Linked DNA regions of Homo sapiens: region 1 is linked to region 2. A link means that fine-mapping ties the variant in region 2 to the expression of a gene that starts in the linked region. Tissue or cell type: whole blood. Region 2 holds a variant in brackets; the other region holds the start of a gene. All regions are shown on one strand. Distances are between the middles of the regions.

Region 1 (2,725 bases), 47 kb before region 2:
TTTAAAGTCAAACACTCACTTAAGGTAGAGAAGGCACTTGAACATTGTGGGTTAATGAATAAATTAAAATTCATTATCTGGTCAGCCCTAAAGCTTTATTTCCCTTGTTTTGTGTAAAGGTTTCAAAAAAATAAAAATGCTTAACAGAACATTCTTGCTAAACATTTGCTTGGATCAGAAAAAGTAGTTTGATTTTGTTTCACTTTTCTGCATGAGACTGGCAGCCTTAGAACCGAACAGCTAATTTCTCCTGGCATGACATTGAGCACTACATCTCTCAAGACAGAAGCAGCTTAGGAAGGCCTGCCACTGTGGGGTGAGCAAGTCCCACCTTGTTCTCAGCTTAAGGCACTCTGGGATGGTCTGAAATGGCCTTTGCCACCTGGCAAAGATCTGTGCTGACCCCTTTCATTCCACCTGGATTCAGGGCTTTCCTGATAAACCAAGCTATGCTGAGCATTCAGCCGTGTGTGATTTCACTGCCCAGACCTTTCTTCCTAACCCTCAATGAATCAGTTTAAACTCGCCCGAGAGCAATGCAGGTCAGGAGTGGAAGTTTGGACTCGAAATTTACCCTCTACTACTAAACACTTCCAAGCAAAACTCTACAAAGCAAAGGGCCCCAAGTCTGTCTTTTCTGTATTTCTCCCAAACATCAGACCAAAAATGAACATTTCTTCATTTGTCCGCCTCTCCCCCAATCTCCATCTCCTCTCCCTCTCTGTTACGCACCCAGGCACACATACACACACAAGCTCACACGCGGAATCACGGCCACCTTGGTTTTGAAAGTCCTCAAATACTAACCACATCCATGGGATGGCGCCTACCTTTCTGAAATGTCAGTCCACAAAAGGTGCCCCTTGCTTGTGAAGTGTAGTCAGAGAGCAGCTTCCAACGTTCCAACCAGCTTCGTTCTCCTCAGAGAGCAGCACAACTCATCTCTGTGTAAGACCTGAAATTCCTTCAGAGACCCACCCTCCAAAGTTGCGAGTCAAGATTTCTGACTGAGGGCAGTCAGTGACGTGAGGCGAAGCTACTGGATGGCACCCTCAGGTTCTTCCTGATGGGATGTTGCTTCCTGTTTCACCACCTTGAGAAAAGAAAGCTGGAATTCAGTGAGACATTGAGTTACAAATGCATCAGTTGCCTCATCGTTGTTGCCTTTTGGTGCACACAGTCATCTGTCAACTGCTGAACAGGATGATCTTGCTGTTTGTATTAAAAGGAAAGGGCTTATGCGCAGAGAGAACCCCAAAACACCAGTCACAACCCTGTACTGTCCTAGGAGCTGGTTCGACAAGTATAGTACTCTCCAGAAAACAGGCAGGGCTTCTTACTAACTAAATCACCACCATGCCACAAAACTCATCCACTAAGGAGCATTGGTCCACAGGAATGTGATTTCTCTGCCCGCTTCCTAGGAATTGAGAAAACGATCAGTTTTTTGAAGCATATAACTGCCAAAAAATACAATAGTCTGGCAATCTTTTCTTCTTAGAACAGTCAGATATAATTCGCATTTTTATTTGTTTGTCTCTAAGAACAATCATCATAGACAAAGACAGACAAGCTCATTAGTATCAGGAAATAAACATTGTTGCTTGTCTCTGTGTGCTTGAACCACTACAATTTCAAAGGCAAGTGTGGATGCATTTTATAGTGTTTATTTGAGATATTGTACCTTTGAAGCCATTTTCACTTTCTCTTGCCTGAAGATGAAACAACTCTGGGCTTGGATTATTTAAAGGTGCTCTGACAAGTAGAGAGCTTCAACAAGTTGATTCCTGTATCTCTCACAAACCAAACATCAGCAGTACCGCCCACACTGAGAGCCTGATTCTCATTAGCTGTCTTCAACTGCTGAAAGACATTTTTCTTTTTTCATCAGCTAATAGATGACCGCAAATTAAAAATGGACTAGATGCAGATAAAGGGAAACACCAGTTTCAAATTCATTAAAGCTCCAAAGTTTCTCAGATTTCACTAATGAATTTAGTTCAAAGAGAGAGGATTGATAAACGCCCTTCCTTTCACTGGGTACTTCTCACTCAGGGCTTCCCGGTCTGCCTTTCTCTTCGAAGACGTTCTGTTTTTCAGTAATGGGCTCATGCATTTTTAAAACCATCTGGCAGAAGGGATGAATTTAAAGCAGACTTGGCCACTAACCGAGGTAGGCTCAGTTCAGGTCTGCCTCACCTTCTGCCAGGAGACCACTGCAGAATTGGTTTCCTGACATGAGGCTTCCATCTTCATCCAATTGTCACCTAACTCACATTCCCATTCTCATTTCTTTTTCTTCTGCTGATTAAACTCTACCAGCCACCTTCTACCTATAGGATCAAGACCAGACTCCTTGGCACAATGGCCTGCTCGCAACCTGCTGCTCCAGGACTTCCTTTTGCCCTTTCCCACTAGATTCCAGACACAACAGTGGGCAGCTTCTGGGCCCTTGCCATGAGCTGCTCTCTCGCCTCTGTGCCTAATGAAAGTCTGAATCCTGCTCAAGCTTCCCTAGCCTCGGCCCTCTCTGTTCTGTGGGTATACCTTTATTGCAACACCTACTACTCTATCACAACTTAACTGATTTTTGTATCTGCTTCCCCACTACTTTGGGAATCCTCACTGGACAAGCCTTAGATCTCTTTCTACCCCTGGAGCTCAGCTGTTCAATACTGGTCAAACAATTAGTACCCAAAATAGTGATCATCCAACACTCATTTTC
Region 2 (2,821 bases):
ACAATATTTTCTTTACATAATACAACTGTATACAACATTGTTTATACATTTGGCCAAAAGAAGTATGATAATATGTGGCACACCGAGAAGGAACAGAAGTATCCTAATATTATTTAAGTAAAAAAATCGAATATGCCACAGAAATAAAATAAAGGGATGGAGGAAGATCTACCAAGCAAATGGAAAACAAAAAAAGGCAGGGGTTGCAATCCTAGTCTCTGATAAAACAGACTTTAAACCAACAAACATCAAAAGAGACAAAGAAGACCATTACATAATGGTACAGGGATCAATTCAACAAGAAGAGCTAACTATCCTAAATATATATGCACCCAATACAAGAGCACCCAGATTCATAAAGCAACTCCTTAGAGACCTACAAAGAGACTTAGACTCCCACACAATAATAATGGGAGACTTTAACACCCCACTGTCAACATTAGACAGAACAACGAGACAGAAAGTTAACAAGGATATCCAGGAATTGAATTCAGCTCTGCACCAAGCAGACCTAATAGACATCTACAGAACTCTCCAACCCAAATCAACAGAATATACATTCTTCTCAGCACCACACCACACCTATTCCAAAATTGACCACATAGTTGGAAGTAAAGCACTCCTCAGCAAATGTAAAAGAACAGAAATCACAACAAACTGTCTCTCAGACCACAGTGCAATCAAACTAGAACTCAGGATTAAGAAACTCACTCAAAACCATTCAACTACATGGAAACTGAACAACCTGCTCCTGAATGACTACTGGGTACATAATGAAATGAAGGCAGAAATAAAGATGTTCTTTGAAACCAACAAGAACAAAGACACAACATACCAGAATCTCTGGGACACATTTAAAGCAGTACGTAGAGGGAAATTTACAGCACTAAATGCCCACAAGAGAAAGCAGGAAAGATCTAAAATTGACACCCTAACATCACAATTAAAAGAACTAGAGAAGCAAGAGCAAACACATTCAAAAGCTAGCAGAAGGCAAGAAATAACTAAGATCAGAGCAGAACTGAAGGAGATAGAGACACAAAAAACCCTTCAAAAAATCAATGAATCCAGGAGCTGGTTTTTTGAAAAGACCAACAAAATTGATAAACCGTTAGCAAGACTAATAAAGAAGAAAAGAGAGAAGAATCAAATAGACGCAATAAAAAATGATAAAGGGAGTATCACCACTGATTCCATAGAAATACAAACTACCATCAGAGAATACTATAAATACCTCTATGCAAATAAAGTAGAAAATCTAGAAGAAATGGATAAATTCCTGGACACATACACCCTCCCAAGACTAAACCAGGAAGAAGCTGAATCTCTTAATAGACCAATAATAGGCTCTTAAATTGAGGCAATAATAATAGCTTACCAACCAAAAAAAGCCCAGGACCAGATGGATTCACAGCCGAATTCTACCAGACGTACAAGGAAGAGCTGGTACCATTCCTTCTGAAACTATTCCAATCAACAGAAAAAGAGGGAATCCTCCCTAACTCATTTTATGAGGACAGCATCATCCTGATACCAAAGCCTGGCAGAGACACAACAAAAAAAGAGAATTTTAGACCAATATCCCTGATGAACAT[C/T]GATGAGAAAATCCTCAGTAAAATACTGGCAAAACCAAATCCGGCAGCACATCAAAAAGCTTATCCACCATGATCAAGTGGGCTTCATCCCTGGGACGCAAGGCTGGTTCAACATATGCAAATCAGTAAATGTAATCCATCATATAAACAGAACCAAAGACAAAAACCACATGATTATCTCAATAGATGCAGAAAAGGCCTTTGACAAAATTCAACAACCCTTCATGCTAAAAAACTCTCAATAAATTAGGTACTGATGGGACGTATCTAAAAATAATAAGAGCTATTTATGACAAACCCACAGCCAATATCATACTGAATGGGCAAAAACTGGAAGCATTCCCTTTGAAAACTGGCACAAGACAGGGATGCCCTCTTTCACCACTCCTATTCAACAGAGTGTTGGAAATTCTGGCCAGGGCAATTAGGCAGGAGAAAGAAACAAAGGGTATTCAACTAGGAAAAGAGGAAGTCAAATTGTCCCTGTTTGCAGATGACATGATTGTATATCTAGAAAACCCCATCGTCTCAGCCCAAAATCTCCTTAAGCTGATAAGCACCTTCAGCAAAGTCTCAGGATACAAAATCAATGTGCAAAAATCACAAGCATTCTTATACACCAATAACAGACAAACAGCCAAATCATGAGTGAACTCCCATTCACAATTGCTTCAAAGAGAATAAAATACCTAGGAATCCAACTTACAAGGGATGTGAAGGACCTCTTCAAGGAGAACTACAAACCACTGCTCAACGAAGTAAAAGAGGACACAAACAAATGGAAGAACATTCCATGCTCATGGATAGGAAGAATCAATATTGTGAAAATGGCCATACTGCCCAAGGTAGTTTATAGATTCAATGCCATCCCCATCAAGCTACCAATGGCTTTCTTCACAGAATTGGAAAAAACTACTTTAAAGTTCATATGGAACCAAAAAAGAGCCTGCATTGCCAAGTCAATCCTAAGCCAAAAGAACAAAGCTGGAGGCATCACGCTACCTGACTTCCAACTATACTACAAGGCTACAGTAACCAAAACAACATGGTACTCGTACCAAAACAGAGATACAGACCAATGGAACAGAACAGAGCCCTCAGAAATAATGCCACACATCTACAACCATCTGATCTTTGACAACCCTGACAAAAACAAGAAATGGGGAAAGGATTCCCTATTTAACAAATGGTGCTGGGAAAACTGGCTAGCCATATGTAGAAAGCTG

What was found. PIP is the estimated chance that this variant, and not a neighbour inherited with it, causes the effect.
Region 1: CERS3 starts here. The variant in region 2 is fine-mapped to the expression of CERS3 in whole blood (TOPMed, PIP above 0.99).

Annotation. Positions count from the first base shown.
Region 1 is chr15:100,527,983-100,530,707 of GRCh38, forward strand. It overlaps CERS3 (ceramide synthase 3), which reads right to left and starts at 968. Exons shown (of 12, transcript NM_001378789.1): 1 at 831-968.
Region 2 is chr15:100,575,163-100,577,983 of GRCh38, forward strand. The region is part of intron 3 of LINS1 (lines homolog 1); the gene reads right to left. Among named protein-coding and RNA genes, the nearest start is that of LINS1, 26 kb to the right of the region's middle. The variant C/T (reference allele first, on the strand shown) is at 1,596.